Linked DNA regions of Homo sapiens: region 2 is linked to region 1. The links come from fine-mapping of genetic effects on gene expression. A gene starts in region 1. The other region holds a variant in brackets. All regions are shown on one strand. Distances are between the middles of the regions.

Region 1 (5,362 bases):
GAGTCTCAGGCAGGAGAATCACTAGAACCCGGGAGGCAGAGGTTGCAGTGAGCCGAGATCTCGCCACTGCATTCCAGCCTGGGCGACAGAGCGAGACTCCATCTTAAAACAAAACAGAAAAAAGAAAAAAGAGGCTGGGCGCAGTGGCTTACGCCTGTAATCCCAGCACTTTGGGAGGCCGAGGTGGGTGGATCACCTGAGATCAGGAGTTCGAGACCAGCCTGGCCAACATGGTGAAACTGTCTCTACTAAAAATACAAAAATTAGTCAGGCGTGGTGGTGCATGCCTGTAATCCCAGCTACTTGGGAGGCTGAGGCAGGAGAATTGCTTGAACCCCGGAGGTGGAGGTTGCAGTGAGCCGAGATGTCGCCACTGCACTCCAGCCTGGGCAACAGAGGGAGACTCTGTCTCAAAAAAAAAAAAGAAAGAAAGAAAAAGAAAACGAAAACCAAAAAAAGAAAACTATCGAGCAAATACAAGCAGAGGCAGGACTCAGGAGGAGCAAAAAATAGATTCCCCGAGGGTACCACGGCAGCTCCTCTGGAGCAGGGAGGCGCGGGAGGGGCCGCCCACCTTGTATTTCTTCCTTTGCCAGCACAGGATCACCTTCTCCTTGAACTGCCCGTTGTAGGCACGGTTGTTGGCCTGGACCTTCCAGGTGAATGCTGCAGCGAGAGAGCCGGGCGTCGCTGGAGCTCGAGGCCCAGGACAAACACCCCTAATGACCGCCCGGAGGAGGGCTCATGGGGCCCGTGGGACCCAGGCACTGGGGAGGCCCGAGATGTCAGAGCCCGTAAACAGACAGTCGGGCAGCAGGCACCACCTGGGGACCTACCAGACCCTGCCCATAGTTGGCGCCGGCACAAGTGGATTCCGAGAGTGGCCACCCACACCCCCAGCCAGGGGCCTGTCCTGAGACGCAGAGAACAGGCCCTGGGAGACCGTTCAGGCCTGTACATTTTACAGAGGGGGGTAAACTGAGGCTTGGTGATGGGCTCTTGGGTGTCCAAGGCCATACATCCAGCTGGCGGCCCAGATCTTTCTGGGCATGCAGCCCCCAAATCCTGAGCCAAATCCCCCAAACCCAGTCAGTACTAGGGTTGGAGACTACTAGAAACCAAATGAGAATCCTAGGCAAGGCCTGACGTGCAGGTCTGGGGGCCCCAGCCCGTCTCAGCCTCAGCCCTGCACTTTTTTCTTTTTTTTGAGATGGAGTCTCGCTCTGTCACCCAGGCTGGAGTGCAGTAGCACAATCGCAGCTCACTGCAACCTCCACCTCCTGGGTCTCCTGGGTTCAAGTGATTCTCCTGTCTCAGCCTCCCAAGTAGCTAGAATTACAGGCATACGCCACCACGCCCAGCTAATCTTCGTACTTTTAGTAGAAACGGGGTTTCTCCATGTTGCCCAGGCTCTCGAACCCCTGACCTCAAGTGATCCACCCGCCTCAGCCTCCCAAAGTGCCGGGATTACAGGGGAGAGCCACCACGCCTGGCCAGCCCTGAACTTCATAATCCCTCCCACCTGCACCGCCCCCTCTGCCCAGGATCAGCACCTGAGTTCCTGTCCTCATCTTGGAGATCTTCTCTCTGGCCGAGGCTGCCCATGCTGGTGGGGCTGTGGGAGAGAAGGGCCCCGGGTCACAGCAGTGACCCCAGCCCTTGCTGGGCACCACTCGGTCTTCAAGGAGCTCACAGCCTAGGGGCCGACCCTCTCAAATGCTACCTCCCACACTCATCTGCAGCCTCCCCGCCAGGCTCTGAATGTCCAGCCATAGGCTGTGTGTCTTGCCTTGGACATCCTGAGACCTAGGGGACCCCAAGATGATCCTCAAACCTGCAACAGCCCATCTGCCAGTGTCCCCCGCCAGCCACCCTGGTCGCCTCCCGCCAGTACAGCCTAGAAGGACTCTACCGCCAGCCATGCCAGCCTCTGGCCATGCCAGCCTCCGGCCACTGCTCCCCACACCTCGCTTTTCCTGAAAGGACCACTCTCACCTCCTCCTGGTTTCACTGACGGCCTCCTGCCCCTCTCCCCATGTGGCACCAGCTTAGGGGCTCAGTCATCTGTTCACTGACTGAATGGGACCCCCGGGCTATATGTTATATCTCAAAACACAGCATGAGGGTCAGGCATGGCCACTCCCCTCCTCACCCCCCCAGGCTGGGCAGCAAACTCTGATGGGGGCGATGGAGGCAGACGGACATCGTCAGAAGATCCTGGAATCTTCTCCACTAGCAGGTTCAGGAATGTGGGTCTGGCTCTAGCCCTGCACCGGGGGCCCTGGTTTGGCCCCCTATGAGGATGGGCAAACCACCCCTAGACGCCAGCAACTGGCCCCCCACCTGCCAGCTCTCTAGCAGTGCCCTCCCCGCCAAGCCCCTGCCCCTGTGTTCCGGCCACCCGATGCACCCGTCCTCACCCTTCTGGTCTCCATTCATACTTCCTAGCCCGGCCAGGCTGGGCCTTGTGCCTCCTCTCAGGTGCCCCTCTGCCTGGGGAGTCTCCCATCCCAGCTCTGATCACCGTCTCACCTCCGCGGATGCCAGCAGGACCTGAGCCTTCCTGAGTCACGTCTGAGTCACCCGTGTCCCCAGGTCCTGGTGGGGCAGGGCTTGGCTCAGGGCCAGCTCTGGTGCTCCTGGGAGTCTGAGCGGGGCCAGTGCCCATTCACCGCATGAGGAAAAGGGAGGTTCAGGGCGAAGAGGGGTTTAGGCTGTGGGACGGGGGAGAGGTGGGGGAGACCCCCGTGGGGGCAGACTGGGGATTGGAGAGTTGGAGAGAATGCTCAAATGGCCAGAATCCACTCGAAGTGTATCTGGGGGCAGAAAGAGACACGGACACAGCGCTGGCTTCCTGCCCCCTCACTAACTGGGATGCCCCATTACTCGGAAGCCCCCCACCCCGTCTTCCCGCAGCCGCAGGGGCACAGGACCGCCCTGGACAGGGCTCCAGAGTCCAGGGCTGTCTGCACCCGCCCCGGGGCCCCGACCGCGCGAACCTCTAGGGGCGCGCTCTCCACCCCCGCCGCCACGACCCCAGCTCTCAGCCTGGGTGGAGCCCAGAGAGGGTGCGCGGGCTCCCGGGGACGCACAGCAGTGGGAGCACCCGCCGCTCACCGGCGCAGGAGAGGCAGGGGGGGGCAGGCCGCGGGCGTCCAGGGCGGCGGACGTGGTGGAACCGTTAGCCCGGTGCCAACGGTCCTGAAACGGGGGGCGGGATCTCGGGGCGGGGCCTCGGGGCCCGGCCAAGGCGAAGGTGGAGCCAGTTCGGACCCCGGAAGGGGGCCGGGGGCGGGGCCTGGAGGGGGTGGGTGGGGCCAAGGCGAAGAAGGGGCGGGGCCTCGAGGGTGGGGCCGAGCGGAGCACGGCCGAGCAGGATGGGGGCCAGGCCTCAGGGACGCGGTCACGGCCGAAGGGCGGGGCCTCGCAGAGCCTCGCAGAACAGGCCGGGATAGAAGACGCTCGGGAGCAGTGCCTGGGTCTGGGGAGGGGCCGGGACTTTGGGGAAGGGACTAGAAGGAAGGCGAGGACGAGCGGGGTCTCGCTGAGCAAAGTCAGAGTAGGGGCGGGGCCAGGACTCAGGGGCTTGGCCAGAGCGGGAAGCGGGGTTGAGCATGGCCTTGCGGAGCAGTGTTATGGTAGGGGCGGGGCTGGGATCCGGAGCCGTTACAAAGGAGGAAGGCGGGGCCGCGCAGAGCAGGGTCAGGGTAGGAGGGCGCTCAGGGTGGGTCCAGGACAGAAGGCAGGGCCTTGGGAGGGCCTTAGGGAGCAGTGCCAGTGCAGGGGCGGAGCCTGAAAGGGAAGAGGGTGTCAGGGCAGGGCCGGGCCGGGCTTGGTCAGGGAGCAGAAAGAACCTGCACCGCAGGGCGGGGTTGGAAGGGTTCTTGGAAAGGTGGGCCTGGGTCAGGTCGGAATGGGCCTTGCAGACCTGACGGGGCTGAGGCTGGTGCGGCCAGCGTGGCAGAGTGCAGGAGGAAGGACCACAGGTAACGGCGGTTATGTAAGTCATGTCTGATCCGTGTCCTGGGTTCGTTCATTCATCCCATACACGTTCAACGAGCGCCTCCTAGGCGCAGATGCAGGGCTGAGCACCAGGCTGGGGAGAGGCGGTTATAGCCATTGAGACCACCCTAAGGCCAAGAGGAAGCCCGCAGGGTTCTTTCCAGCAGGTGGCAGGGGCTCAGGGATCCTTACTGAAGAAGTGGCAGGGGTGAGTTCAGCGACGAGGCTAGGGCGGGTCCAGGCCAGCGATAGGGCCTGGAGCCAGGGTCAGAAAGTGTGTGCGGAGGGGCTGCTGAAGATGAAATGCCCCCAAGAGTGAGGCTACCTGGGGTGAGGGCCCAAAGGGAGAGGCAAACATGGGTGGAGGGGGATAGGGAAGCCACCTCCCCCATCAAAGCGGCAACCACCTGAGGGCTCTCGGTGATCACAAACCCTCTTTCTTTGGAAGCCCAAATTGGAAGCCTGCTTGGCCCTGGAGGCTGCCAGGGAACCTCTCTTTTTTTGGAGACAGAGTCTCACTGTGTCACCCGGGCTGGAGTGCAGTGGTGCGATCAGAGCTCACTGCAGCCTCCACCTCCTGGGCTCAAGCGATCCTCCTGCCTCAGCCTCCAGAGTAGCTGGGACCACAAGCAGGCAGGCAGGCCACTGTGTTTGACTTCTCTCCTTTCATTCCTTCAACACTTCCCCTGTGCTTGCTTGCTTGCTCAGTGGTTACGAAAAAAAGCCGGGGCTGGGAGTTTGAACACACTGTTCTAATAAACTTTAGAAGAGACCTGGTTGGGTGCAGCTGTGAGGACCAGATTCCCCCACCCCAGCCTTCGCAGGGGGCACTATCTGGGGGCAGGAGCTTGCCCAGGGCACTTGTGCAAAGGCCCTGAAGCCTCCAGTGGCAACAGGTGGCTTCACAAGCTGAAGGGAGTCCCTGGGGGCTGAAGCCAGGGCTGGCCAGCCTTGGGACCCCCCGTGGGCTATGTCCTGAGGCACCAGGTGCGTTCTGGGAAGGGGGAGGCAGACATCACATGGGAATGCACAGAAACAGAGCGCATACACGCCTGCGCCATTTATTTAGAACACAGAGCCGGGCACAGTGGCTCATGCCTGTAATCCCAACGCTTTGGGAGGCCGAGGCAGGTGGATCACTTGAGGTCAGGAGTTCGAGACCAGCTTGGCCAACGTGGTGAAACCCCATCTCTACTAAAAATACGAAATTAGCCAGGTGTGATGGCACAGCCATAATCCCAGCTACTCGGCAGACAGAGGTTGCAGCCAGCTGAGACTGGGTGACAAAGCGAGACTGTGTCTCAAAAATAAAGAAGAAAAAGAAAACAACTCCTTTACAGAAGAGGTGGGAGAGTCACTA
Region 2 (5,362 bases), 27 kb before region 1:
TGAAGGTGTATTTGAATGGGAGAAACCAGGGCTTCCCGATAGAGGAAGAAGCTAGATGGTACAAGAACTGGAATTTATAAACTTTCTTGGGAGGGGCCAGCTGTCAGGCAGCGGGGGAGCCACAGCTTTTAATAAGCAACTTTTGAGAGCAATGAAGCTTTACCCACATTATCTTACCCCAGCATGAAGAAGGAAAGTTTTCCCTGCAAATACCCGGCTGGACCACTAGAGGTCAGTGTTTTGATTTTAAAAACCGGGAAGGAATATTCCATCACAAAAAAAGTGTAGGGAAAGAGGGAGCCTGAATTAGCGCTGGGGTCAGATGGACCCTGGTTTATTAGAAAAAGAAAAGCATGTGGAGTCCTTGTCTTTAGAGGAAGGCCCCCTGCATGCTGGTTGACTTGCAGCAGAACTGGCTGGAGCTTCTTCTTCCCAGGAAGGACATCTTCCTGATATGCCAGCGTGACTCCTTTGGGCTCGAAGATGCCTCTTCATCAGATGGGTCTAGGGATTCAGATGCTACGTCACTGCTGAACCCTGGTCCCCTCCGCAGAGGGCAATGACTGCTCCTCTGGGGGCAAGGATAGCTGCTCCTCCCCGGGCACCAGCAGCCACTCCATGGATGATGATGACTGCTTCTCCGCGGGCCACAGCTCCACCTCCATAGGCTGCTCGCTCGTGGACGTGGACGATTCTTCCAGACTTGGTGGCAGAGTCTCCACCTGAGATTTGTGGGTCTTGTCTGGAAGTGGCACCGTCCCCTCCTTGGGGGTGTGAGGCTCCTTTTGCCAGCTCTTCCGGAACGGTGTGGAGGGCTTCAAAAATGCTGACTTCTCCTCCGAGGAGTCTGGCTGGCTCTCCAACGTCAGCTGGCCTGAAAGAAATGACTGGCTCCCCAGAGGCTGTGGCTGGCTCTCAAATGACGACAGCTGGCTTTCTCTGTGCAACAGTGATTTCTCCTGAAAAGAATGTGACCTCTCCTTGGTCAACAGCAACTTCTCAGGAGAAGGTGGCCTCTGCTTGGGTGACAATGACCTCTCCTGTGCCCTTGGCAATTGCTCTTGGAAAGACTCAGATAGCCTGTTGCTGCTGGTGAGCACATATTTGGGGAGGGCAGGTTGGTTTTCTGGATGAAGAGCGGATTGTCTATCCATAGAAAATGATGAGCTAGGTGTAGGGGGGAGCTGTACTTCCTGGGAGGACACCTGCCCCTGTGGCTGGTGCTTCTTCTTCCCCAGGAAGGACATCTTCCTGAGGTGTCACTGTGACTCTTTTGGGCTCGAAGCTGCCTCTTCATCAGATGGGTCTAGGGATTCAGATGCTATGTCACTGCTGACCCCTGGTCCCCTCCGCAGAATTGTGCCCTGAGTGATGAGGTTTGCATATCCCTCACGGTGGGAGAAAGCATAGCTGGAACGGCGGGCACGAGACTCCCGGTGTACATGAGGCAAGGGCTCCATGGTGAAAATCTCCTCGCTGGGGCCCTCCTCCACCTTCTCCTCCTGAAGAGCAAAGGGGAGAGCAGGGGAAGCAGACTCCTATGCTTGGCTGATGGCTCTCAGGTCCCCCAAGTAGGAGAGGCAGGATTCAAAGCCCTTGGCCACTATTGATTGGCTACGTTCTTCCCTACCCAAGTTGAGCCAATTAGAGTCCTCGACTCTCAGTGTTGAGTTCTAAGGAGGACTCTAGTCCTTTGCTTTTCAAGACCCACTAATTGGCCTTGCCCTGGAAACTAACCCTGGATCAGCCAATCAGAGTTATTCCCTGGGACTTAACTCGGGACCACCCAATCAGAGTCCTTCCCTGGGACTTAACCCTGGCTCAGCCAATCAGAGTCCTTCCCCGACTCTGGACCAGCCACCAGGTGCCTTGGCTGCCCTTTGGTGGCAAATCCAGGAGAGGTGAGCCTGGGACAGCCAGGTGCCCAGCCTGTGCAGTAAAGGTGGCAGGAGCTGGGCAGGGAGAACAGAGGTGGCAGGGCAGGTACACCATTCCAGTCAATTCTGGGGCCCATCTCAGCTGCAACTTGCTTTTCCATGCATGCTTTGGTTACGTGGGCTAGTAAGTCCCCTCCCTTTTTTTTGAGGTGGGGTCTTGCTCTGTTGCCCAGATAGGAGTGCAGTGGCAAAAATCATAGCTCACTGCAGCCTCAACCTCCCAGGCTCAAGCAAGCCACCTGCTTCAGCCTCTCAAAGTGCTGGGATTACAGGTGTGAACCGCTGCGCCTGGCCTTGAGCACATGTCCTCAAGGTGCATCCACGCTGTGGCCTGTGTCAGAGCCTCACTCCTTCTCACGGCTCAGGCGTGTTTCATTGCACAGATGGAGCGTGCCGTGTTGACCCACTCATCTGTCAACAGACTCTTATTTCTAAGTTCCTCCTTTTGCCTAAACCATTTCAAGGTTGTTTCCGTCATCTCAACCCCCAAGCTCTAGATCATTCACGGTAGAATCTGATGGTGTCAGCCAGGCACAGTGTGGCTCATGCCTGAAATCCCAACATGTTATGAGGCCAAGGCAGGAGGATTGCGTGAGCCCAGGAGTTTGAACCAGCCTGGGCACCATAATGAGTCTCCATCTCTAGAAAATAACTACAAAATTAGCTGGGCGTGGTGGT[A/G]CATGCCCGTGGTCTCAGCTACTTGGAAAGCTGAGGTGGGAGGATCCTTTGAGCCCGGAAGGTCGAGGCTGCAGTGAGCCGAGATTGTGCCACTGCACTCCAGCCTGGGTGACAGCACAAGACCCTTCTCAAAAAGTAAAAATAAATAAATAAATAAAACCTTAAGAGCCCGATGGCATCAGCACTGGAATCCAGGGCGGCGTTTGGGTGCTCTCTGCTGCTTTGTCGGGGGAGTGAGGTCTCCCTTCTTGGGAAATCGGGCCCCGGGGGCACTGGGCGTGTGTCCGGGGCTCCGCACCCACCCTTCCCCCAAGCCTAGTGTCTTGGAGGGCCGAGAGGGGCCGGGACACCTTGCAGTCCCTACGCCCTGCACGGCTCCCCAACCAGGGTCCTGGAATGTACCAGATGAGGACCCCAGGCCCAGGCCCACCTCACCTTGGCACGTAGCTCCTTGAGGGCTGGGAAGATGACTCGGAGGGCCAGGACAGGGAAGGTGTTTATGGACACACTCAGCAGGACCACCAGCAGGATGGAGGGAGAGGACATCACGCTGAGGTCGGCATCTGGGGACAGGGCGGGGTCACAGCAGAGCCTACCCCCAGCTCCAAGGATGCCCCCAGGCTAGGGAGCGCCTTGGTGCCTTTGTGCCTGGTCCATAAAGGAGCGCCTTCCCCAGGACACTTTGCCGGACGACTGTCATGAGCAACCTGCAACCTCTTCCATCGGGGCTCCCCTGCACCACGACCGCCCGTCCCACTTCCCCATGGGGGCTCACACAGAAACGGGAAGGTCGTGGGGGATACTCTGAAGAGCCAGAAGCTCTGGGTGGTGGTAGTCATGATGGCGTAGAAACCAAGGCTGAGGAGGATGGTCGCCACGCACAGGGCGGTCCAGTACTTGATGATAAGAATGACCTGGACAGGCAGCGGTGGGGTAAATCCGGGGCCTAGCGGGGCTTGCACCAGGACACCAGCCCCTGGGGTCCAGGAAGGGCACCTGGCAATGCCCCCAAAGCAGGGGTCCCCAGGGGAGGAGGCCTCCATAGGCCATGTCCAAGGCCCCGGGGAGGTGAGGACCTTGCCCACCTCCATGGTGATGGACAGCAGGCAAGACAGGGCCACCACGACCGCAAAGGACTGGTGGTCGCTGAAGCTGGCGGGTCCCGCCGTGTCGCGGCTGATCCACAGTGTCATGAAGAAGTTGACCAGAGAGGTGGTCACACCATGGGCGATGGCTTGGACGAAGACCCAGTAGTTGAAGAGCTCGTCCTTCTGCCCCACCACGTACAGCTCCGGCTTCTCCAGGCTCTGCTCTGCGCTCACGTCCTTGGGGCAAGCAGAAGCTCTTGGGATTGGGTGGGGGGCGGGGGACACCCAACAGAGATCAGGATCTCCTCGGGCAGGCCAGTAGGGTGGCCACTCTCTGTGTGTGGCTCTTTGAGTTTAAGTGAGTTAAAATAAAGTAAGGCCAGGCACGGTGGCACACGCCTGTAATCTCAGCACTTTAGGAGGTCAAGGTGGGAGGATCGCTTAAGGCCAGGAGTTTGAGACCAGCCTGGACAACATAGTGAAACCCCCCATCTCCAAAAAAACCTTTTAAAGGAGCTGGGTGTGGTGGTGCGCACCTGTAATCCCATCTACTTGGGCGGCTGAGGCAGGAGGATCATTTGAGCCCAGGAGTGGAGGCTGCAGTGAGCTGTGATCGCACCACTGCACTCCAGCCTGGGTGAGAGAATGGGACCTCGTCTACAGAATAAAATAAAATGAAATGGAAAGAGCTCTGGAGGTTGGTCACTTGGCCACACGAACGCACTAGGTGATGCTGGGCTGTGCGCATGAGTCTGGCTGAGACGGGGCAGTTTACGTGATTTGTATTCCACCACAGTTAAAGATACCAGCAAGGCCAGGTGCGGTGGCTCACGCCTGTAATCCCAGCACTTGGGGAGGCCGAGGTGGGAGGATCACCTGAGGTCAGGAGTTCAAGACCAGCCTGGCCAACATGGCGAAATCCTGTCTCTACTAAAAATAAAAAAATTAGCCGGGCATGGTGGTGCACGCCTGTAATCCCAGCTACTCAGGAGGCTGAGGCAGGAGAATCGCTTGAACCCGGGAGGCAGAGGTTGCAGTGAGCTGAGATTGTGCCACTGCACTCCAGCCTGGGCGACAGAGCGAGACCCTGTCTCAAAAAAAAAAAAAAAAAGATTCTAGCAAACATGAAATGAGATGTAAAATCCAGTCCCTGGGTCACACCAGCCGCAACACAAGCGTTCCTCATGGGCACGTATGGCTGCTGGCTTCTGTGTTGGATTGCATAGCTGTGGGACACTTCCATCATCTGGAACGTTCCATGTGACCCACCCTCCCAACCCCAGATCACGTAGCCAGGGCCTCTTGGAGCTGGGGGATGATAAACCTAGCAGAGTCATCTGCTCTGATCCTCTCTCCCCATTGCATGGATGGGTAGACAGAGGCACGGGGGCTCCAGCACAGGGTGGGGGCTCCCACACACAGGAGGAGCTGGATGGCCCCGGGATGAGCGTAGGCTCCGGTGGGAGAAGGTCAATGGCAGTGGGCAGGGAGAGGTACTGGACTGCACCCCCTGAGCCCCACCCCATGGCCTGAAGGTCTCCCAGGCTCCCTCTCCCCGCCCCAAGGAGCGGAGGAGAGGAGGAGAGGCTAAGCAGAGACCTGGAAGGAAGACCCGGCCTTGCCCTGCTCACCTGCTCAAAGAGCCCAATGTAGAGAACT

The links. PIP is the estimated chance that this variant, and not a neighbour inherited with it, causes the effect. A credible set is the group of variants that fine-mapping cannot tell apart.
Region 2: its variant is the best candidate, but not a certain one, in a credible set for the expression of ATP8B3 in lung (TOPMed, PIP 0.76).

The regions. Positions count from the first base shown.
Region 1 is chr19:1,809,069-1,814,430 of GRCh38, forward strand. It overlaps ATP8B3 (ATPase phospholipid transporting 8B3), which reads right to left and starts at 3,208. Exons shown (of 29, transcript NM_138813.4): 1 at 3,118-3,208; 2 at 2,421-2,816; 3 at 1,554-1,615; 4 at 575-666. The coding sequence starts at 2,668. RefSeq lists enhancers at 2,716-3,461, 3,842-4,001 and a silencer at 2,922-3,291.
Region 2 is chr19:1,781,769-1,787,130 of GRCh38, forward strand. ATP8B3 (ATPase phospholipid transporting 8B3) reads right to left here. Exons shown (of 29, transcript NM_138813.4): 25 at 5,335-5,362; 26 at 3,701-3,940; 27 at 3,391-3,529; 28 at 3,051-3,178; 29 at 307-1,502. The coding sequence ends at 1,260. Among named protein-coding and RNA genes, the nearest start is that of ATP8B3, 28 kb to the right of the region's middle. The variant A/G (reference allele first, on the strand shown) is at 2,616.